Homo sapiens: one gene and its partners. The protein of the gene in region 3 interacts with the protein of the main gene of each other region in a biochemical or structural test. Each region holds a gene or a part of one and is shown on either strand. Other genes may lie near its edges.

What was found.
Region 1: the proteins of PPP1CB (region 3) and PPP1R12A form a complex in vitro, tested with the Homo sapiens proteins (one study listed by BioGRID).
Region 2: the proteins of PPP1CB (region 3) and PPP1R3A form a complex in vitro, tested with the Homo sapiens proteins (one study listed by BioGRID).
Region 4: the proteins of PPP1CB (region 3) and KIF23 form a complex in vitro, tested with the Homo sapiens proteins (one study listed by BioGRID).

The regions. Positions count from the first base shown.
Region 1 is NC_000012.12:79,925,066-79,932,104, forward strand, and holds part of PPP1R12A (protein phosphatase 1 regulatory subunit 12A), read right to left. Parts: intron 1-7,039. UniProt on the Homo sapiens protein: Key regulator of protein phosphatase 1C (PPP1C). Mediates binding to myosin. As part of the PPP1C complex, involved in dephosphorylation of PLK1. Capable of inhibiting HIF1AN-dependent suppression of HIF1A activity.
Region 2 is NC_000007.14:113,915,983-113,923,449, forward strand, and holds the start of PPP1R3A (protein phosphatase 1 regulatory subunit 3A), read right to left. Parts: upstream 3,028-7,467; 5' UTR 3,015-3,027; coding exon 2,233-3,014; intron 1-2,232. UniProt on the Homo sapiens protein: Seems to act as a glycogen-targeting subunit for PP1. PP1 is essential for cell division, and participates in the regulation of glycogen metabolism, muscle contractility and protein synthesis.
Region 3 is NC_000002.12:28,775,791-28,782,829, forward strand, and holds part of PPP1CB (serine/threonine-protein phosphatase PP1-beta catalytic subunit), read left to right. Parts: intron 1-1,060; coding exon 1,061-1,192; intron 1,193-3,018; coding exon 3,019-3,249; intron 3,250-5,947; coding exon 5,948-6,052; intron 6,053-7,039. UniProt on the Homo sapiens protein: Protein phosphatase that associates with over 200 regulatory proteins to form highly specific holoenzymes which dephosphorylate hundreds of biological targets.
Region 4 is NC_000015.10:69,445,310-69,448,925, reverse strand, and holds the end of KIF23 (kinesin-like protein KIF23), read right to left. Parts: intron 2,918-3,616; coding exon 2,835-2,917; intron 2,644-2,834; coding exon 2,562-2,643; intron 2,056-2,561; coding exon 1,985-2,055; intron 1,135-1,984; coding exon 1,119-1,134; 3' UTR 501-1,118; downstream 1-500.

The DNA of each region.
Region 1 (7,039 bases), on a different chromosome or scaffold from region 3:
AAAACTCTCAACACTGAGGATATTTTAAAAAAATGTTCTGGAGCTGAAACTCCAACAGAAAAGCTCTAGAAGTGTTCCATGCAAGAATATAAATATTCAAATAAGTTTATAACCATCTAAAACAATTTTGAAGGCTAATAAAATATATATAATTTGGGATGTTTATTACAAGTAAAGGTTGAGTGCATACGTGTACGTGTGTGTGTGTGTGTGTGTAACAGTCCATGAAAATATACTTTCCCACATGGTTATTAATCTTTAAGAGGGTGCCAAGTGACATCTCACAAAATGTATTCTCCTCTGCACTATGCAGTATTCAAGAAAATGACATGAGCTTTGTACAATCTTATGATTTTATTGTTAGAGGTCATGTTAAACTAAGAAAATAGTAATTTCAGCTCAAATGTGAGTTAAATCATCAAGTTAAAGTAAAGCTTTTTATTAAGTGAAGCTCTCTCTGCAGAATATCTCACTTAATATACATAACATTTAAATAGACTACTAAAAAAGTGACAGCTGAGGAATGCTTTCACTTCTTTCCATGGTTTCTACTGAATGTCATTTCAGAAATGCCTATACAACACATGACAATGTGGAATGTCTCCTCCCATGAAAGAGCATTTGAGTTGAGCAGCAAGCACACTTAGGGCAGTAACACAGAACTCAAGCGTGTCTTTTTATGGTTAGCCAGCATAACAATGCAAAGATAAACAACCAAAACACTAATAAGGTCAGAAAATACTGACATAGAGGGAGCCATAGTAAAAATGTTATTTGGAAAAAAAAAGTATCAGTAAAATAACAGAAAATATGCATTATTTCTAATATTACCATGCTAGAGATTTCTTTTCTTTTTCTTTCTTTTCTTTTCTCTTTATTGGTAGAGACACCGTCTCCCTATATTGCCCAGGCTGGTCTTGAACTTCTGGGATCAAGTCTCTTGCCTTGGCTTCTCAAAGTGCTGGGATTACAGGTGTGAGCCACTGCATCCAGCCTAGAGATTACTTTTCTAAATGAACACTCAAGGATTTGTTTAAAGAATTTTTAAACTAAGTTACATAAACTGAAGCGTCTATTGATAATCAGTAATAGATCTCATTTCAAAAATAAATCTAACATCCCAATAATTTTTTTCTTTAAGACAGAATCTCGCTCTGTCGCCCAGGCTGGAGTGAAGAGGCATGATCTCAGTTCACTCCAACCTCTGCCTCTTGGGTTCAGGCGATTCTCGTGCCTCAGCCTCCTGAGTAGCTGGGATTACAGGCATGCGCCACCATGCCTGGCTAATTTTTATTTTGTATTTTTAGTAGAGATGGGGTTTTGCCATGTTGGCCAGGTTGATCTCAAATTCCTGAGCTCAGGTGATCCGCCTGCCTAGGCCTCCCAAAGTGCTAGGACTACAGGCGTGAGCCACCATACCCAGCCACCTAATAAATGTTTTGATTGTAATAATGGCTACCTTTACATTGTAAGTATTATAAAAGTAAGTGGTTGATATAAGCTTTTTTATTAGGACATTTTAAAAGTTTGTCAGTGTGTTACACTTACCCAATTATTTAATATTCTATGAATTCTGCTCTTCAAAATATTAGTTTACATTGTGTCCAATTTTTTTTAATCATTAAATATTTATTGTGTACCTACTAAAACAAAATGCCGATACAAAAGGAGATTTAAAGAAAAAAAGAATCAAAGTCCCTACCTTAAGGGTATATAAGGGACTTCTTCCCCCCCACCCCCAGTATCCATGGTATGAAGTTTCCTACAATTTGTCTCTAAAAAGAATCAAATATGTACATGTACGTATGTATAAAAAATTTACTGTAAATGATTAAAAAAAACTAAAACAGGCTAAGTGCAGTGGCTCACGCCTGTAATCCCAGCACTTTGGGAGGCTGAGGTGGGAGGATCACTTGGGCCCAGAAGTTTGAGACTAGCTTGGGCAACACGGGGAGACTCTGTCAAAGAAAAAAAAAAATTAGCTGGAAGTGGTGGCACATGCCTGTATTCCCAGCTGATCGGGAGGCTGAGGTGGGAGGATCACTTGAGCCCAGGAAGGCTACAGTGAACTATGTTCATGCCACTGCACTCCAGCCATGGTGACAGAGTCTGTCACCCTGTCTCAAAACACACATACACACACCACACCCACACACACACCCAACAACTGAAACGATATAAATTGCTATTAGGGTAAAGAAAAATAAAGGTAGTTAAAAATTAAATTCTATGTCCTGAAAAAAGGAGTGTTTCTTGTTGCTGCTGATATATTCTGCACATAATGGTAAGTCAAAAATAATCTTGGCACTTCCTAAAATTTAGGACAATTTCGAATTCTGAGATTAATTTAGATACAGTACTACTGCACTTCAATTACCATAGAAAGGTCTTAAAAGTATGGGCTAGCTAAAACAAATGTGGATGAAGAAAAAAATTATATGTGTGTTTCACTTGATTTTCAGCTAATTTACAGAGAAACCTCCAATTACTAAACACCACCATAATGATGAAAAGATTTAAGAATATTTTCTTCTTCAGACTTCAAAGAAGATACCTGGCATAGGGTAAAGTTTGAGTTTCGGCATCAAACAGACCTGCATAAGAATTCCAGCTCTGCCATTTATTTTCTTGTTAACTTTGAGCAAGTGAAAAAGCATGTTGTGAAAATTAAACTATTGTTTGGAAAAGCACTGCTCCTCAATAAAACACTGATTAAGTCATGGCTACTACATATCTGACTCCAACTGAGAATAAACTTATAATTGTTGGAGTTCTTCAACCTTTCAAAGAGGTATACCAAAATGCCAATACCTCATCATCTTCTCAACCTTATTGTGGAGCCCCACAAACTTTCAAAAGAAGGGTGGAGTAAAAGATGGCAATTTTTTGCAGGCAGAGGCAATGAAAATAGCAACTTCATATAGTGTCAAGAAGTAACATGTTATGGTAGTAACAAAACAACGTTTTATGCCTCCCCCTATTAAAAGGTTTTTAAATAGTTTTCTTTTAAAAATCATCTAATAAGATTTTTAAAACACTTTTCTTATGTGAACTGTAATTTTTAAATGTGGTAATAACAAATGGATGATGAAAAACACTTCCTCTATTCCATCCAGTGTTTCTACCTGGCTATAGAAAATGCTCAGTCACAGCTTGCAATCATACTGTAGCTGAGGCACATGAAAGATGGTCTTGGTTATGACACCTCAAAGTCAGACCACAAAAGTGTTGCCAGGAAGCACAGAGGCAGCAACTACAGAAAAAGCATTAGAACAGCAGCAGTGTGGGCACTGGTGCCCTACCAGCACACCCCATATATGGCTAGGGTTGCCCACTTATTTGTAGGAAGTGAGGGGCCAGTTTGGGGTTGGGAGGGTTTTATTTGTTTGTTTAGGTAGGTTTTTAAAAATGGATTTAGGATGATTTCAATAAAAACTTTTGAAAGGCATGAGCATAAAGTGTTACAGCTTTTCTAAAAAGAAAACTATGCAGAGAAATATTTTACACTGCACATTCTTTTAGACACAAATTTTAATGCTCTTTAAAAGTTATCCAGTAGGTTCTTCCAAGATCTTAACATTCTCCATCAAAAAAAGGGTAAACAGTTACAAACTATAAACTCTTAATTCAGATTTTACATAGTAATCAAACTATTTGCTAACAAGCAACTCAAAATTAATTGCTTCCAGTCTCTTTTACACTTCACATCTTAAGAAGACTACACAAAAGTATTCCCTTTACTGACGAGAGGATCACATATTTTACAAAGATGCTTAAAATGGCTCCCTTAGAAGTAGATCAAATTTGTATTTTAAAAGCAAAAGGATTTCATATTAAACCTATCTGTAAGTCTGTCTGTTTTGGAAAGTAAAAGAAAAACTATTTTAAAATTCTAATAGCATAGAACATGGAACTAATTCTACTTTGTATTCCTCTAGAAGTGGTACCCAACCTTGGCATCAGGAACTAGTTTTGTGAATGACAATTTTTCCACAGATGTGGGTTGGGGAGTGGGGCCGGATGAAACTGTTCTACCTCACATCATCATCAGGAATTAGATGCTCATAAAGAGCACACAACCTAGATACCTCAGAAGCGCAGTTCACAATAGGGTCCGCACTCCTATGGGAATCTAATGCCGCTGCTGATCTGACAAGAGGTGGATTTCAGGCAGTAATGCTAGCTTGCCAGTGTGTCGCTCACCTCCTGCTGTGTGGCCTTGTTCCTCACAGGTCGTGGATCGACCTGTCCACGGCCCAGCGTTTGTGAACCCCCGCTCTAGAGGATCTAGCTCAGACTCTTACAAAGTGAGTAATTAATTAGTGACTCAACTGGATATAATATTTTTCTACCACTTAACCAATATCTAGACTGCTTTAAAATTTAATAGAAAGGAGGTCGATATTAAGAATTTTTTAGGCCGGCCACAGTGGCTCACACCTGTAATCCTAGCACTTTGGGAGGCCAAGACGGGCGGATCACTTGAGGTCAGGAGTTCGAAATGAGCCTGGCCAACATGGTGAAACCCCATCTCTACCAAAAATACAAAAAAAATTAGCCAGGCATGGTGCCACGCACCCGTAATCCCAGCTACTTGGGAGGCTGTGGCAGGAGAATCACTTGAACCTGGGCGGCGGAGTTTGCAGTAAGCCAAGATTACACCACTGCACTCCAGCCTGGGTGACAGAATGAGACTCCATCTCAAAAAAAAAAAAAGATTTTTTTAAAATCTCAAGATATTAAAATATATTGAAATCTACAACAAAGTTTTTAATTTGTTTCATAATCACACAAATTCCATTATGTGCAAGAACAATACGCTAAGTATCTGATGCGAAGGTTTCAAAAATATATCTCACAACATAAAAATAACTCTAAAACTTCCTATTGATGAGGTAAAAAGATAAAAATTCAATAAACCTTTAGTGAGCATCTACTATGTGCTAGGCTCTGGAAATACAAAAATTGTGGAAGATTAGGTCCTCAGAGGCTACAAGGGAAGACAAACACAAACACTATTCAGTAAAAAGTGTTTTTATTGCAGGAGAGGCAGAATATAAGGTACAGTGAACACCCCAGAAAAGAGAATGTGAATCTTGAACAATGACTAGAATTTTAATTGGCAAACGAGGGAGAGAGGATAAAAGGCATGGCTAAAGGCATGGAAATAAAAAATGTAAAGATCTAGTTGAAACGTAAGCAAGTTAACCAATTTCTATAAAGGATACAACACAATGGAGATGTATCAACCATAAGCTAAATGATAAAATGTACTATATCCAAATTTAGAGAGAGGAATAACACCATCAAAATGATACTGTTCAAAGATTAATATGACAGCAATATGCATGCTAGATTAAATAAGGGAGAGAATAGAGGCAGGAAAAACAATTAAGCTATTACTATACTCTAGGGATAAAAATAAGGCTAGGTGCGGTGGCTCACGCCTGTAATCCCAGCACTTTGGGAGGCCGAGGCAGGTGGATCACCTGAGGTCAGGAGTTCGAGACCAGTCTGATCAACATAGAGAAACCGCATCTCTACTAAAAATACAAAATTAGCTGGGCATGGTGGCACACGTCTGTAATCCCAGCTACTTGGGAAGCTGAGCCAGGAGAATCGCTCGAATCCGGGAGGTGGAGGTTTCAGTGAGCCAAGATAGCGCCATTGCACTCCAGCCTGGGCAACAAGAGCAAAACTCCATCTCAAAAAAATAAAATAAAATAAAATAATAAAGGTATGAACTAGGTTGCCAGTAAAAAGTGGCAAAGAAAAGAACTGATGCCAAGGTAATTGTAAAGAAAAGACTGAGCTAGAAGACAGACTGGATTATGCATAGACAAGGGGAATGAGTAAACAATAACTAAAATGTTTAACTTGATTCTAAAGATTAATACATCATTAACAGAAACAGGAACATCAATGAGAAGAGTAGACTTGATGAAGAAAGATAGACCTGTTTTAGGTTGAATTTAAAGAAATTCCTGACGATGTAAAATTGTCTTACCACCAAATTAATAATACTTTTAAAATAATTAGTTAAAAAGGATGCTGGTAAAGTCTAAAGATAAGTATCTCTAATGTTAACGGATAAACGTAAAATTATAATACTGAATTGCAACTATGAAAATCTATATTTGAACAATAAGAAATCCTTTGAAGAAATCACAAAGGTTAACGTGAATACAGTAGTTGCCATTCTATGGCAAAGGGGGTGAACTTGTATTTACTATATTACTACTTAAAAGACATTATTAAATATAAAATTACAATACATTTAATATTTCATTTCAAATCAATACATAACCCCAAAAAATGGAAATGAGGCTTGGAGCTTTGCAGAAATGAGGGAACTGTAAACTGACTTGGAAGTCACTGGCACAGAGGAAAAAGAAAAGATTTTAAGGCTAAAATCAACAGGCTAAACTCAAAACTGCTGGAGAAAAATCTCAGCCCTGTATTTTATGCACACCAGTATCAGTAAGAATCAGCAATAAGGCATTCTATATATAACTTTATTAATCTCCTTAAATCTTTACAAAATATGCTAAAATAGAGATATAATCACATACTGTAAAACTCTACCAGGTAGCTATAAAATCAGAAGCTGATTATTGCCCCATTGGTAATAATGAAATTCTACTCTAGACCTCGGTTCTAGAAAAACCAGAAATTTGTATCTATGGTTAACTTTGTGCTGTTTTGTAGCTTTGGGGGTCAGGTCCTGGGTAGAGTGGGTGGGGGAGAAAGGCTACTCTGGAGACTAAGATAGGAAATTTGACAAGAAACGCTGCTTTTTCTTCTATACAGAGGACACATTTCTATACAAAAAGAACAGCTGAAGACTGGATATCTTTTATAACTTCTAATGAGGTAGCACATTCAACAAATTAATAAACCTTTAAATATAAGCTCTTTAAAGTAAAAGCAAAATATTCGATTTTCAAAAGCATATTTGTGGGTTGTGATGTTCCTAAAACTTTTCTCTTGACAATGAAATTTAGAACACTTGATCAAAACCAGAAAGTAAATGAATATT
Region 2 (7,467 bases), on a different chromosome or scaffold from region 3:
ATATTCTATTATGGCACATGCTGTTCTAAGGATCTGTCAGGATTTCCTTTATACACTCCATTTTGAGTGGTATATAAATCAGATGTAAAAATTCATGTTGGACTGAAATTCAGCACAAAATGCCTCCTCCAGAGGCAAATGCTTTTTTCAAAATGTGGTTCGAATTATGTTGGTCATTTTTAAGTTACAGAAGTGCAGAAAATGTATTTGTGGTTTTGAGGGAGAGAGATTTTTTCCATTTTTATAACTCATTAGGAAACTTTACAGGCCTTCAGACCATTTTGTGGTTTAGTTCTTCTCAGGTTTTTCCCCAAAGCAATATTAAAACTTGAATGGTGTCCGCTGTGAATCCAATGATTACTGTTCTGAATACAAATGTATGTGTGGATACATATAGTTCTACATATCTTCAACTAGGAGAAGTTCCAAAAATATTATGACCAAGGTAGAAGATGAGGCCTATCAGTTGGCTAGTCTTTGCCTTGGTATCAGTCAAGTTTGGCATATCAAAGGAATCAAAGGAATCCCCTATCCAAACCACAGTTCAGCAGGTATTGCTTGAATTTTAAAACTGCATTAAATTGCAGAAAAATCCGCTGAGTTCAACACTGCCTCTTTTATGAGCTTTTAGACAATAATGCTGCGCCTTTTCTAAATTTTGGTTTCTCTAACATATAGAGCAAGTTGCAGTGTGTTTAACAGATATTCACTAATGCTTATCTCATTTCTAAAGTATTTAATATGTATATATTATGCATATAAATTAGTTTGCTAAATAATGTTGAACTTATTTTGTTAGTGTAGCTAATGTGTTAGAGTAATTTCATAAACATCTAAATTATTATTTTAGCCTATGTAGAGATTATTATACTCTCTTTCCTAACAGCATCAGTTAAAATCAAAGAAAGTTTGATTTAGACCAAGAAAGTTGGCCTAATTCACAAAGTTGATTAAGCCAATATTTCAGATGACTTTAAAGGAAAATGAAAATAAACATAATATATATGTTTGAATTGCTTCCATCTATACTGCATTTAGTTTATTAATACATTGGAACAATGCATTTAGTAGTTATTATTTATCGTTTAAAGCACAATTTTTAAAAAAATTTCCCAATATCGTATCTTATGCTTTGTATTAAATTCCCCTTAGAGAATTAAATCTGGGTGTCTTGATTCCAAAACAGTTCCCTTTCCTATTTCCTATATTTCCTATTTCCTACATTACACTATTTCTGGTACAGTTACCAAAATCCTTGGGTTTAGGGACAGTTAAGATGGACCACTCAGAGGATGATCAAACATTTGCCTGTGGCTGGAGCAATGTAGACTTTCCCTCTGGGATACTGAGGAGCAGAAGGGGTCTCACTTCTCCTGAATGTTTTCTCTACTTACCTAGTGTCACAGAAATTAGCCAGCTATGTACTATCGAGACAGCTGAATGCCAGTTTTTCTTATTTTTCACATTAACAAGAGAGTAAGGTTACTAATGAGGGGTCACATCCCAAATCTCTAATCTATATAGCTGAATATCCCTATTTATATTTGGGTCATTTTTTGTTCTGCTCCATTGACTTTTACTAAATTATACTAATTTGTGTTCCATAATGTTATTCTTGGTTATAATTAATGAAATTTTGTGTGTAACTCATATATCACTGATATACTTATGTCTTTCTGTTAATCATTAAGGTCATTTCTTTTATAATTTAAATTAACATGTATCACTTCAAACATCCCTGTATAACTCAAAACAGTTATGAAGAAGTTCTTTGCAGCTTTTGGGAGAAGTTTACAAATTTCTGAGAACTAGATACATATTGAAATATAGTTTTATGTTAATCAAAACTGTTTCAAAGGAAAGCATAGACATTTAAAAACGACTGAAAATAAAAGTACTTTAAATGTCAAAGTAAATAATTTTATATGTGAATAATCTAGATTTCATGGTTTGAGCAGGAATAATTTATAACTCATTAGGCAAGTAATATACACAGTGCACTTCTCTCCCAACCTATTGCATTACAGCCATATTTTTTCTCACATTTGTAGAAAGGGTTACACAGTGCTATTATTTGAATAGCTTTGACCTTGTTAAAGCCTGGCACCATTGTTTTTTACATAGCAAGCAGTATATTTTTAAATAGAGTCACTTTCTTACAACACATGAAATAAAGAATGACATAAAAACTTTAAGATTGTGAATAATAAAATATGTAAGATATATCCTCACCTTGATTTTACCTTTAAGCAGCCTTTTATTTGTCTGTTAGGAACTTCTTTCCATGGTTTTACAGGCTCCGGCTCTTGTTCTTTCTTTTGACAAATGAATGTATAATTTGTGCCATTATTATTTGACCAAAATGTACCAACAGAAGTTTCATAACGTATACAAAACTCAACTTTACTGCCATCTTTTTGATAAGGAGGAACCAATACAATCTTAAAGGAGAACTGGTCAGTTTCACCATCACATGAATTAGGAACATATTCTGCTAAAATGTCATAATGTGTCTGCCAGTCATCTAAAGACATTCTTACATATACTAACTTCTCAAAAGAAACATTCAAAACTCGAATAATACCCTTGATACTTGTAGACCCAAGAAGAGACTCAGTTGACTCCAGTATTGCTTTCTGTATTTGGAGTTGTTGCATAAGATCTTCTTTTGAAGAAGGCAAGTCAAACAGTGGGGCTAAAACATATTCTTCTGTGTGGAAAATGTCCGTCCCTAAGTCAAAAGTGGTTGAAGCACTCGGTAATTCCCAGCAATCAAATTCTTTAACAGACACAAGATTGAATCCAAAGGAATCAGCAAATGAAACTCTTCTAGTACCTGAAGATGGGGTATCCAGGTATATGTCTTCAGAAGAATCAGAACCTCGTCTACTTGGTTGAGGGGAGAAACCAGGTTGGAAAGTAACTTCTTCATCTTCACAAAGAGAGTCAGATAAATTAGGAACTTCTAAAAAATTATCTTTGCTAATCTGACTAGGTACTTCAGAAGGCTCCATTGGGCTCTCTGATATCAAATAAGAGAGAACTGTACGACTAGTAGAGGCTGACATTTGAGATACTGAGGCTTAAAATAGGTATAATGTTACAGTTGACATTGCAAAAAGAACTCAGCTCTATAAATAGGTCCAATGGCGTGTCAACTATGCTAGCCTGCAACCCTGCTAGCCTCCCCCTAAAGGCCTTGCATATGATAGCATCCATGCTACTCCCACCAGTATGTTTCAGATTTAACTGGCAGTTTTTAAAGCTGTATTTGTTTATGAGCTAAGTTCCAAACAGATATTTTTAAATCATGTTCTGCTGTATTGGAAATCCTGGAACTTTAGGATAAAAATATTATTTTAATTAGTTGATGTTAAAAATGAAAATGTGGATTTTTTTTAAATAAAATAAAAGTAGTATCACAATACTGAATATGTAGTTTGGACTAAATTAATCCATGGAGCAGGTAAGTGCAAACAGGGAAAGATAAGAACATTTATAGAACTGAAGAGATCCAGAGCCTACTAATAATGACAGCTATCATTTTCAGGGATTTATAAATGTATAGCTTTATTACAAAAGGGTTAAATAGAGGTGCTGAAAGTTCTGAGGAAGGAAACATGATTCAGATGGGGAAGGTATCATTTTAAATAAAGCATGAAGGGTAGGTGGAATTTAGACATGCAAGGTTGGAGCAAGGCAGATTGTCCAGGTAGAAGAAATAACCCAAGCAAAAGCCTAGAACAAAGAAGTAATCAAATTCATTATTTTAAACATTAGTACATTTATTTTAATTAAGCCATGGGAAAATACAGATAAGACATGTTATTGATTTACAAATATAAGTGGGCAAAGGTAAGCCTGATCCAGGACTAATACATCTACGTAGAATAAAATGTTCTTTTGCAAATGGCCATTTTATGCCCACAAAGCAGAAGTTGATACCATCACACCTTGAAATTCAATATGAGTTTTAAAGTATGAACAGCCTGCTTAAACTGTCACGTTTTTTTTATGTCATAAAACCCAAGTTGGGGGATGGTCATTTTGGTAAAAACCTATAAAAATTTAACTGCACACAATTTGACCGAGAAATGCCCCAGCTAGAAATTTGCTCTGTCAGTATGGGAAAGTATACAAAGATAAATAGAGATCTATGTTCATAACAGAATTGTGCGTTTAACAGTCTCTACAAACCTGTTAAATGTCCCTCTCGAAAGAGCATTGGATAAATAACCCATACAATAGAATGTTTTAGAAGGATAAAGTAGCACTTTATGTGCTAATATGGAAAGATAACCAAGATAAATGGCTAAGTGATAAAAAAGAAAATGTGTACAGATATGTACATAGAAAACTCCTGAAAGGATACAAAAGACAATGTTAGCAGTATTTACTTCTAACCACAGAATTTAAAGATGGCAGAGGAATGGGGGCTCTATTCATTTTACTTTATGGTCTGCTGTACTGTTTGAAATATTATACATGAGCATGGTTTTCTTTCAAAATATCTATTAATTAAACTGAAAAAATATACGAAGTGTGAAAGGTGATTAGTTTTTCTTTTTATAAAGAGCCCAATAGCATAATTTCTTTCAAATGAAAACCTCATTAATATGGTATAACTTATTAGGTAATTTGAATTGCATAAAGTAGTGGATGGAGAAATTATTTTCTAAAATTATAAGTGACTAGTGTCTAGAAGGATAAAGAAATGAAATTATTTGAGCTTTATCTCATCCACATAGCTAGAATGGGTGGTGACCACATGGATTGCTCAAGAATGGGTAATGGCTGCGGAAATGTCTGTGCCTTTCAGATTTGATGACTACAAGTAGCTATATTTCAAGGTACCTGAAATACATTGCTATGTAGTCAAGGAAATCAGCAACAAAATGCTTTATGGAAATTAGTAAAATAGTTCATATAGCCATGTAAATAATGGGATAATGAAAATTTAAGATATAATAATGTACTGAAATATTTTAACTATCCAGGAGTTAGTTAGCAAAGGAATGGAAATGAAGACCCCTGGGTCCATTTCCTGGCTCTGCTGCTTACTAGCTGGATGACCTTCCGAATGTTACTCAGATGTTCTAACCCACAGTTGCCTTAATTGTCAAAGTACAATGTTTAAAATTAAACAAGATTCTTGTTAAATGTCTAGCACAAAACCTATAGTAATAGCACCAGTCACTATTTCAATTCCGATATATGTTTGTAAAAGGCTGATTTCTAAGGTATATCAACAGATAGATGGATAGATATGTAATCTATCTAGCTACAGAGAATTCATATATATCATTAAGAAATGATTTGTAATTTGTTTCATTTTTGTCTTTTTCAAAGGCTATAGTGTGTAACACTTAGCTTTATAAGACATAATATAGCTCTACATTAGAAAATGGTCCTGTTATTTGATCTAAACTTTTCCCTTGTTAATGTGTCTCTTTACACAGAGCACTACCTTGATTTGTAGTAATCACTGCCTTTCTTTTGGAATTTATAACCTTCACATAATTGTAGACAGTTGACATGTTCCCCCTTAGTCACCACTTAGCTAAAGCAGAGTGATTTCATCTTTTTAATCTCTTCCCACATGTCAATCCTCCAGTGCTTTTTACCATTTTGTTACTCCTCTATGAACTCCTTCCAGCTTGCCTGTATTTTTCTGTTAATGAGCTGCCCCCAGATGAATGCAATATTATAGATCAAGTGTCTCTGGAGCATGAAAAGAAATACTAACAGCCTCAGCCTTGTGACTTGGTGTTTGCATTCAGTTAAAATTCACATTTCCTTGCTTTATTTCCATATCACAGATCAGACCAATGTCCCATTTTCTCATATCCACCACTACCTCAATTTCAACACAATTTATCACACTCTTCTTCAGCTGCTAAGGTATACTGTTTTTAGAAGAATTAAAGCTTTTTCTTTCCTTCTTTTTTTTTTTTTTTTTTTTTTTTACAAACTAAAGCTCAAGTCTCCATGCATTCCATAATTTTTGGTATTAATCAAATATTCTCAAAGGCACCATTAACATAAAAAACAGTATCAGTCAGGAACCCAGTAAATAGGAAATAGATGGCATGCTCAAATAAGATAATTTCAGGAGGATTTATTTACAAGGGTCTATTTATAAAGTGTAAAGGCAGAGAAGCCACAAGAACTAGTGTGACAAACTGGGGTCAATTGCATCAGAGCTTTTACCATCCTTCAAGGGATAAGGGAAGGGAACACTTATCAGAACTTGAAAGCAAAGCGTGCCATAAAGAGCTTACCAACTGGAGACCTGGTCAAAGGACACAGCCAGTTGAAGACGACTTTGCCAGGAGTGATCCGGGAGCATAATAAACTGAATTCATTCTTCTCCCTTTTTATGATGTCCTACCAGAGCTACCTATTGGCCAGAGGGCATGGGAACTATTATAGTTCATTCAGGTCAGTCTCCCGCAGCAGAAAACAGGGAGGAAAATGGTGGAAAGGGTGGCAAGTGGATTTGGAGGAGCAAACAGAAGATATGAGGTATGAAATATATGCAAATATGTATATAACATATATACATATATAACTTAAAATACATATGTGTGTTCCTCTTTATTTATACATACTGTATCTCAATGCCAACTGAGTTTCTATTACCTGATCTTCTACTGTCATGGGTTCAAGAAAAAAAGTTAAATATCTAAGGTCTGATCAGCTCTGATCCAGTGAGAATCAAAAATAAGAGAGATTGTGTTTATCCACAAATGGGTAGGAAAGAAATGATCTATTTTGAAATTAATTATGATTTTGCATTTGTTTCCCATGTTAGCATAGATTTTTGCAACCCAAAGAAACGTTTTGTCAAGAGACAGTCTAGAACTGTAGTCTTTAAAACCAGAGATAGATGTCAAAAATCACTGGGAGAGATGTTCAAATAAGATTTTCCAAGAGGATGATGGTTCACAAGTGATTCTGATATATAGACTTGGTTAAGATGCGTGATCTCCGGCTGGGCGCAATGGCTCATGCCTGTAATCCCAGCACTTTGGGAGGCCAAGGCGGGTGGATCACAAGGTCAAGAGATCGAGACCATCCTGGCCAACATGGTGAAACCCCGTCTGTACCAAAAATACAAAAATTAGCTGGGCATGGTGGTGTGCACCTGTAGTCCCAGCTACTCGGGAGGCTGAGGCAGGAGAATTGCTTGAATCCAGGAGGCGGATGTTGCAGTGAGCCGAGATTGAGCCATTGCCCTCCAGCCTGGAGACAAAGTGAAACTAGGTGTCAAAAAAAAAAAAAAATGCATGATCTCCTAGTCTGTCTGCCATAGTCAGGGACTTAAGTTCTAGTTATGAAAACAATTGTAGCTATTATCCCTCTACATATGTACTATGTGCTATTTTTAGTGTGTGTGGGGGCTATAAAATGCTTTTACAAAAAAAAAAACAAGAATTGGGTAGAACTTTAAGGTCATTTAGCAAT
Region 3 (7,039 bases):
GTTCAGTGGGGCAAATAAGGAACTCTTCTGTCTCTCCATGCAACATTCTGTTCCCCTTCATCCCACAAGTTACTGGAAACCATATTATCTTATGGCTCAGTAATGCAAAGATGCCTCACTCCATCTAAATAGCCTTTAGAGGTTTTAATATAATGATCTATTGGGAATGTAACGATAAGTTAATTTTTAATACATAGCTGATATCTTTTTTGTATTTCTTTTGATCAGAAAGTAGAGATAGGAGTTGCTAAAATTTTGGGGACTGCTGGTAACATTCCAAGAAAGTGTGTGAAGCTAAATCACCTACTGACAATTACTATTTAATCTCCCTTTCTTCATAGCACATTGTTCTTAATGAGGCTGTTTTGACATCCTACTAGATGCGAGATAAGCAGGCCAGACCTTAAAGGGTGCGGGCTCTGAAATGTTTTTTTGTGTGTGTTTTTTTTGTTGTTGTTTTTTTTCTGTTTGTTTGTTTTTTTTTTATTTGAGACGGAGTCTCGCTCTTGTTGCCCAGGCTGGAGTGCAATGGGGCGATCTCAGCTCACTGCAACCTCTGCCCCCGGGTTCAAGCGATTCTCCTAACTCAGCCTCCCAATTAGCTGGGATTACAGGCATGCGCCACCACACCTGGCTAATTTTGTATTTTTGGAGAGATGGGGTTTCTCCATGTTGATCAAGCTGGTTTTGAACTCCCGACCTCAGGTGATCCACCCACCTCAACCTCCCAAGGTGCTGGGATTACAGGCATGAGCCACCGTGCCCGGCCCTGAAATCTTTTAAGTCTCTTTGGCTACTAGGCCCCAGGTTGGTCACAGGACAGCAAAAAACAGGACTGCATTTCATCAACAGCAGACTTGAGGAGCATCATCAGGAACCAGTAACAATGAAAATAGAAGTCAGAGATCATAGAATAACATTATTTTAAACCATGGGACCAAATAGGGTAATTTGCTGCCTGTGTGACTTTTCTGATTTTTAAAGTATGGGCATGACTCTTTTTGAAAGATTATTATGAGTAAATTTTAGAAAACTGACTGTTTTATTTATCGTTTGTCAGTACGAGGATGTCGTCCAGGAAAGATTGTGCAGATGACTGAAGCAGAAGTTCGAGGCTTATGTATCAAGTCTCGGGAGATCTTTCTCAGCCAGCCTATTCTTTTGGAATTGGAAGCACCGCTGAAAATTTGTGGTATGTAAATGGGTAAAGTTGGAAACAACTCTTTTGAATCATGTTTTTCCTCCCATGTTTAAGATCTAGAGAAAACATTTTTTGAAATTTTTGTATAAAACAGATCAGTAGGCTTTACTAAATAAAAGTGTATAAAAATTGAAACTTATAAAAATGACAAGTTACAGACAAGATGAAAATACTTGCTATATATCAACAGATAAAAGGAGTTCTATTTATAATATATAAAGAGTTCTTATAAATAAGAGAAAGGCGATACAGTATAAAAATAACATAGGAAGAGGAAGGTCTTAGAAGAAATTCAAATGGCCAGTAAACATAAGGACGTCAGCTTCTTTTTTTAGTAATCAGTGATGTGCAATTTAAAGCAAGTCTCCAACTCTAGTCAGATTATAAAAAAATACCAAAGATTGATGTTTAGTGTTGTCAAGGATGTCACGAAAAGGGCATCATAGTACACTGGTTAGAAAAAAATAGGTGTATAATTTAGAGGGTCAATATGGCGATATCTGTGGTCTTCTAACTTTGATGTTATTTAAATTTGTTTTGAAGATTATACTACTTTATACCTTGTATTCTTTTAAGTTTTACAGTGACTTTTTTACAGTCCTTTGTACAGTGCCCAGCAAATAAGAGATACTCGCTAAGTAAATGTTTGTTTTTTGTTTGTTTGGTTGGTTTTTCTTTGAGACAGAGTTTCACTCTTGTTGCCCAGGCTGGAGTACAATGGCACAATCTTGGCTCACTGCAACCTCCACCTCCCGGGCTCAAGTGGTTCTCCTGCCTCAGACTCCTGAGTAGCTGGGATTACAGGTGTGAGCCACCACGTCTAGCTGACTTTTTGTATTTTTAGTAGAGACAGGGTTTCTCCATGTTGGCCAGGCTGGTTCTGAATTCCTGACCTCAGGTGATCCACCTGTCTTGGCCTCCCAAAATGCTGGGATTATAGGCATGAGCCACCGCAGCTGGCCAATAAATGTTTGTTGAATGGATCAGTTAACTTAGAATATCACACCTTCAAGTAAGAGGTAGTAGTTCAGAATTTGGGGGAACTAATCAATCCCCTGTATAAACTTAAGCAAATGTAGTTACTTAGAGGTGATCTTAAAATTATTAGAATTAAAGTATTCTTTGAAGGTGTTCTTTAAAATGTAATATAGAAATAACTTGAAGGTAATGGAAGTTATTTGTACTACATATTTCTAAAGGTTTACTATTTGTCTCCATATTTGGTGTTAAAAAGTGACGTAAGTTAAACTACCAGATAATAAAATTGTTTTAGTTACCTATTGTTGTATAATAAATCATTCCAAAACTTTGTGGCTTACAGCAACATTAATTTACCATCTCACAATTTCTGTGGGTCAGGAATTCAGGAACAGCTTAGTGGGTCCTCTGGCTCTGGGTCTCTCACAAGGCTCCAATTAAGGCGTGATCTCGGGCTGCAGTCATCTGAAGGTTGAACTGTGAAAGGATTCAGTTCCTTATAGACTGATGGACTAAGAGCCTCAGTTCCAAATGAGCTGTTGGTCAGAGGCCTCCCTCAGTTCTTTGCTACGTGGGATGCTTCATTAGACAGCTGGTTTCATCAGCGAGCATGGAAGAAGGTGAGAGAGTGCAAGCAAGATGAAAGTCACAGTCTTTTGTAACTTAATCTTGGAAGTGACAGCCCATCTCACTTTCGCTTATTAGAAGTAAGTCACCAAATATAGCCCATACTCAAGGGTAGGGGAGGATTACACAGGATGTGAACATTGGGAATCATTTCATAGAAGCTGCTTATAACAGTAACCAATTTTTCTAAAACTGACTCTTTCTCTTTTTAGGAGATATTCATGGACAATATACAGATTTACTGAGATTATTTGAATATGGAGGTTTCCCACCAGAAGCCAACTATCTTTTCTTAGGAGATTATGTGGACAGAGGAAAGCAGTCTTTGGAAACCATTTGTTTGCTATTGGCTTATAAAATCAAATATCCAGAGAACTTCTTTCTCTTAAGAGGAAACCATGAGTGTGCTAGCATCAATCGCATTTATGGATTCTATGATGAATGTAAGTGAAAATAAAGACTTAGAAAAGTAATTCATGGAAACATTGCCTAATAATTTTCTGGTTCAGAAGAGTTGCTTTGATTCAGAGTTTTTTCAAAATAAGATCTGTCAGGCATAGGCCAGGAAGAGGAACCTGAAACTGGGAAACATGTTACTAATTAAATTGGTTCCTTGAGATCTCCTTGGTCATATTTCAGATTGACTGCAGCTTACTTGGCTGAAGAGGCTCTTTTAAAATTAGTTTATCTAGTAAACTATCCAGGTGAAACAGAAGTCACTGTAGGCAGTGGCCCTTGGTTTTCTAGTGTCCATTAAGGTTTTAACTCTCGGCATTCTTGTGGTATGACAGCTTTTATTAGTCCTGTGTCACAAGAATTATTGAGAAGTTCTGTGAAACTATTTAAAAGTCAAAGTTTAATATTATTAGAATTTAAATCTATGTCTGTAAACCTTGAAAGATAAAGATACTGAATACTCTGGGGTATCCTTATTTTACTCTCTTTTTCATTAGTAGGAAATCAACGATTTGGTATTGTATGTTTCCAAGTGTTATTATTAAAATACCCTACTAGGTTCAAATATGGTCTTTTGGTTTTATTAGAATACGGGAGTAAGTATTTATTTGGTTAATTACTACTTAGAATCAATTATAATCTTCAAATTGAATTTTTTATTGCTGTCTTCCCTATTAGAATCTACTTTTGCTTTTTTTCAATCCTTAATTATGTTAGAGACCTATTCAAACTCATATCTCCTTGATTTATATAATGATTTGACAAAGTTTGAGGGTATGTTATATGTGCAGGCACTATTGTGAACACAGTGCGTGAAGCAATACACAATACAGATGATCTCTGTTCTCATGGAGCTTACATTTTTTTTCCCAAGTGTTTCTCCAGCATTGATTGGCCTTCCCTGTCCAGCCAAATAGCAGGTCATCAGCCTAGCTGGGACTGTATGTCCTTGTAGTGAAAAAAGGCTGTATCAGGCTTCCAATGCTTAATGAAAATAGCCTTTCTTTTTTCTTTTTTCTTTTCTTTTCTTTCTTTTTTTTTTTTTTTTTTTTTGAGACGGAGTCTCGCTCTTCTTGCCCAGGCTGGAGTGCAATGGCACGATCTCAGCTCACTGCAACCTCCGCCTCCCGGGTTCAAGCGATTCTCCTGCCTCAGCCTCCCGATTAGCTGGGATTACAGGCATGTACCACGTTCCCTGGCTAATTTTGTATATTTAGTAGTAGAGATGGGGTTTCTCTGTGTTGATCAGGCTGGTCTTGAACTCCCAACCTCAGGTGATCCACCCGCCTCGGCCTCCCAGAGTGCTGGGATTACAGGTGTGAGCCACGGCGCCCAGCCATGAGCTTACATTCTAATAGAAATGATTCTGTATTTGATTTTGTATTGTATTTTTATTTCTGAGATGTAGTGTGTGGTTTGAATTATTTAAATCAGACTAGCAGAGAGAAAGTGGGTTGGAGTACATCAAACTACAACATTCTTCCTAAAGCTACATCAGAAATGGAGGTATATTTTTAAAGGATAAAAGATAGGCAAGAATGTCTTTGGGGATAGAAATGACATCAAATGAAATAATGTATGGGAGAGCAACTTGTAAACAGTGCTTTGAGTTATGTACTTACTCATTAAGGGGCAGGTTGTGGCATAAAAGCACAGGAAGTTAGTACTTGTGTCTTTCATCCCTTCCCTAGCTTAGTAGTTGTACCTTATTACCAAATTCAGGAAAATCGAGTAACTCTAAAAAGGTGAACATACACTTGAGGTTGTCTTTGTCGTAGCTTTTTATGCTAGGCTACAGGAAAATTATAGCCTTTGTGCCTCTATTTATACTTGCTATAGTGCCAAGTTGTAATTCACACAAAAGAATACTAGTTAAACACTTGGAAATTTTCCTTCCTTGGCAATAAGTTTATACTGTGTTAATCAATGCATTAGTGTTAAAATGGACAGTTTCCAGAGGCACCTTTTCACTTCTGCTTGCTTATTTGGCTAGGTATTTAACTAGTCCACACACTGAACGGAAAAAAATGAACTAAGAGCCTATTAGACTGTTTAAAAATTGCTATATTATACTGATCTTAAAAGACAAAAATTGTTTGATGTATTTCATAAAACACCTAGCACAATCTTTGGGATTTTTTAAGTGTTAAATTTGATTAGGTTTATTTTATTTGTCAGAAATTCTATGTATTTATGATGTACAACATGATGTTTTGAAGTATATATACATTGCAGAATGGTTAAATCCCGCTGATTTAACATATGCATTACCTCAAAAAGTTAGCATTTTGGGAGAAAACAACACTTAAAATTTACTCTTAGCATTTTACAAAGATACAATATAGTGTTAACTGTAGTCACTGTTATACAATCGATCTTCTGTATTTATTCCTACTACCCAACTGATACTTTGTATTCTTTGACCAACATCTTCCCATCCCACCCCTACCCCCAGCACAATCTTTGAAGTCTTGGTAACTTTACTGAAGGTATTGAATGTTTATTGTAGTTGTTGCCTTTTTGAAAGTACGTAAATAACATCTTTGCATTGTAGAAAAAGTTCTTCTTTATAGATAAACATGAAGAAATGAAGAAAATTGAAATCATTCATAATCCTGCGGCTTTGAGATAACTGATGAGAACAGTTTTAGATTTTTTAATTTATTCTATCTGTTCTTTTTACAGGCAAACGAAGATTTAATATTAAATTGTGGAAGACCTTCACTGATTGTTTTAACTGTCTGCCTATAGCAGCCATTGTGGATGAGAAGATCTTCTGTTGTCATGGAGGTAGACTAGTAAATTTGCCTTACAGATTTTTTTTTTCTTCTATTATTCGGAAAATACCTATAATAATCAAGAGGCTGTGGGAAAACAAAGCAGTGCTTGTATGAAAACTCAAGTGATTAAAACTGTTTTAAACATGGCTAAACCTCTTTTAAAAATTAGAAATTTATTTATAAATGAAAACGTAATGCTTCTTTAAATACAGTTTCACATATAAGGAGTGTAACTAGAGTTGTTTGAGAAAGTCTCCTTTGCCTCAAGTTTTAACAGAAAGACACCCCTGCTATTTATTAGTAAAAATGAGAGGATATCTTCCTGCCTATATTGAAATCTTTCATCAGAATCCAAATAAAATTGAGTTTCATATTCACATATATCAAGAATTCTAGGCTTCATATAATATATTTGCTTTAGTATTAACAATAAAATAATAAAATAATCTTTGGCAGATTGGTAGGTTACTCTGTATGGCTTATGAAATAAGCTTGAAGTTTTTTGAAAGTTTATTTGAAAAATTAATGTATATGTCTAACACCTAGCTAGTAGATAGTGTATGATCTGACCATCTTGAAGAGTTAAAAACCTGTTGCTAAGATACATTTATGAAACAGATAATTGAGTAATAAAAGGTATTTAATATGTCAGAACTTATTAAGACACTATGAGAAGTCAGGAGGAGGAAAGACTGGGTACATGTGTGTATGGAGGCATGGGTTTTAGAGGATAAATAGGCTTTGGAGAAGTTAAAAGGACTTGAGACACTCTTTGTTGTCTAGTTTAGGGAATGTGTAAGAACTGGCCTGACTAGAAGGTCAAGTACATGCTGGGAAATGATGGAATCAGATTATGGAGATTTGACTATTGAGCAACGGAGTTTGTTGAGTGATTTAATAACCGTATTGGGTTTTTGTACAGGGAAGTAATTTAATGGAAATAGTGTAAGAAAATTAGTTTTTCATCAATATACGGGAAGAATTAAAGTGGAAAAAC
Region 4 (3,616 bases), on a different chromosome or scaffold from region 3:
ACAAAATTAGCTGGGCGTAGTGGCGCATGCCTGTAATCCCAGCTACTCGGAGGCTAAGGCAGAGGAATTGCCTGAACCCAGGAGACAGAGTTTGCGGTGAGCCAAAATCGTGCCATTGCACTCCAGCCTAGGCAACAAGAGCGAAACTCATCTCAAAAAAAAAAAAAGCTCAGCCTCAAAAGAAATCCAAATTAAATCCAAGTAAAATGTGTGTTCACCCATGCAATGGGATATTTCACCATGGTTTCGACAGTATTTTTTCTAATTTATGTTGTCCCCAAACTATGCTTTTTGTTTAAATGTCTAGAAGTCATACTTAATATGTAGATAATTATGGTTGTCACATAAAAAAAGGCATTGTCCGTTTAACATCATATTATCTTGTATTTTTTAGAGCTTTCTTTTAATTCATCCCGCAAACAATGAGTGCCAGGTAAATGCAGGGCACTGTGCCAGGTGCTGGGAGGACGTGTTGAATGAACAGCCATCACACAACTATGTATTTCTTAGTGCTTTTGATTTTAATTCTTTTGGCATATCTAAATGTCAGAAAGTGAATATATACATACAGAATTCAAAACACCTTCCTAAAATGGTTATTATTGGCCAGTCATTTACATCTTTATTTTGAAAGTCTGAATTGTCAAATAGTTCTAAAGTGCATTCTTGCAGCTAATAAATAGCAGCATTTGTTTATAAAACCTTAAGAAATTCAGACCAGGGCTGGAGAAGTCACAATAAAAAATCAGACATGATCTAGATATAGTCTTCCTTAATCATCTAAGACAAACACTTGTGTGAATTAGTTTATAAGTATACATGAAATATATTTTAAAAAAACATTATAAAAAATTCATACAGTGATGAAAAAAGGAGTCTTCCTCTGCTATTAATATTAAATATGGCAAAACATATACTATACAAGGTTTGTTGAATACTAGTTGTCTTTGGAACCATAGGGAAAGCTTTGCTCTGGGTCAGTGTATGATGTAGCTGAGGTCCGTGATTTTCAACAAAGCTGGAGTTCTACAAGATGACCTGGAAGACTGCTTCTGGCATGGCTTTCGAGAAATCATCCACACAAATGAAAATGTTCTTTCAGTACTGGGACTGTCAGTTCATGGCTTTTTGCGCCTAAAACATAACAACCAGCACTTAGAGTTGAACTTTGCAATTAGTAACACATTCATAGCAAATCAATCTTTAGGAGGCCTTTGAGAACTGCTGTTTTATGATGAGATAATTCAAGTCCCTCTGAGAAAGCAAACAACTTTTATAAAATATGCTTATCTTAGTATTAAATTTAGAAAGGATTTCCCATCTTTATCCTGCTGCAACAATTTTCTAAATTGCTCAGTAAGGTATGTAAATGTTTAAAATGTTATATACATATAACATTTTATATACATATATGTATATAACATGTGATATACATATATGTATGTATTTGTAAAGAAGGGATTTTATTAAAATATGGAAAAAGACTGGGTCAGACTCCTGAGTATAAGTTTAACAGAAGAAGAAAAGGTATGATTCCTTCCCTACTATAAATTCTTTCATTCAGTGTTATTTATTTTAGTGAACACCTATTGCTACACCAAGACCAAGAAGCAAGTCAGGAAACAATGATTTACACAAAGCTGTCTAGTCTCCAACTTAAGCCTTTAGCCTTCCCTCCTTAGAGGTACTCTCAGTTCAGCCTCAGAAAGCTTTATGAGCGTTGGCAGAATATGAACATGAGCCACCAATCTTCCACCACCGCCTGCCTTGCAGCTCTGATTGCTCTTATCCAGCCTTCTGAGGCTCTCAGCATTCCAGCTGCCTACTGCAGTCTGCCCATGGAGGCCCAGATAGTCCAAGGGGAAAACCAAAACCATATATTTCTTCTGAAGAATAAGTGGATGGCTGGTAGAAGGAGTGATAATGTAAAGACCAGAGGAGGAAAAAAGCACACAGCAAGACCCCAATTACAGTCAGTACTCACTTGGGTTGTGCGTGATGCTGATATCCAGGTCCCAGCTGGGATCCTGCTCTCATCTCCACAGCCACAGAACACTGAGAGGAAAATGACAAGAGGAAAAAGATCAGCTCCTCTCAATAGTCTATAAAACACAGTTATTTAGCAGGCTCCACACCTAGGTGAAATGCAATATTGCTTTCTAGTTCAGCAAAGACTCTTACGTTAAAACACCAGTCACTCGTAATTTATTTCTGGCACAGGCCACAAATGTTGTGAGCCAGAAAGGTCTTTAGGTCATCCAGGTAACTTATCTCATTTTAGATAAGTTTGCAAAGAGAGTTGGTGGCTAAGGCCATAGCTTAGCCTCCTGACCCCTACCTTCCCATGTTCTTTCCAAGAGATTCTCCTCAGGAATAACACTTGCAAGGGAGTTCCTGATGAAGTGGATTCTTGTTATTCTAGGAATAGGCCTACATGGTGCACTGGCAATGTGAGATTATACCTCAGCATTTTCAAAGAGCATAAAAATCTAGAGCTGTGGGGTTTAAAACATGACAAACCTAATTTTAGTAGGCAGACAAATATTTAATTTTTCCCCTACCCTTGTTTCTACATCGGTCCATTCAGACTCTGCACCATCTGGTTGGGCAGGTGCTACTGTGGAAGATCTTCGTTTTCGACTACTGAAAAAGGGGAAACATGATGCAACAATTATTTTTCCATCTAAGAAGAGGAAAAATATTAGAAGTAGGGGAATACTATCTACATCCCTTTGGAGAATTAATGATACATTTCACAGGCTATTCTGTTCCTCCAAAATGAGCAGCTAAGAAAATGACCAACTTTTATACAGAGATTTTTGATGGTTACTTACCCATTTGGTGATTCTTGCTTTAAAGTCTCAATATCAGTAAACTGAACAGATTGTCCACCACCCCTTGTTTTATAAATATCACCCTAAAGCCAAAAGAAAAGGTCACTGTTACACATTGATACACCCAAACGAAAAACACACATATATATTTCAAACTGTTCTCATGATTCTATTTTATAGAAATTCCCATCCACAAAATCAGATGGTACTTGGTACTTGCTGAGTACGTACTATCAAAATAATTTAGAAATTTGAGTACATATCTCTCACAAATAAAAGAAGTCCAATTCAATGTAATCAGTAACATTCATAATTGCAGAAAAAAATATTCCTTTTGCTCCATCTGTAATTTAAAAACTAAACTGCACTAAGGATCAAGAAATTTGCTGGAAGTTTCTACACGCTCTAAGGCATGGTACTTTCTTCTCTGAGTGCCCCCTGTTGCCCATATTCAAATGACAGTATAGTCTTATTTGTAGCTAATTATAATAAGAACAAAAACTCTAAATTGAAATTGAAATAAAAAGCTTTTTTTTTTTTTGGTCTTATCTTTTACTTTCCTGATTATTCACTGACCCTATGATCAAAGGGGAATTCTTCTATAGTCAGGCAAGTCTCTTTCTGGAAAACGGCTTTAGGCAGCTCAATACTGAGTAATTTTGACGGGTCAAATTTTAACATAGGTTTCGTTTTGTTTTGTTTTTGTTTTTTTATCTTGAACTGATGGAGAGCAATAGGAATTCTTTGCTTAGATTACTTTAAGTAGTGGTTAAAACTAAATA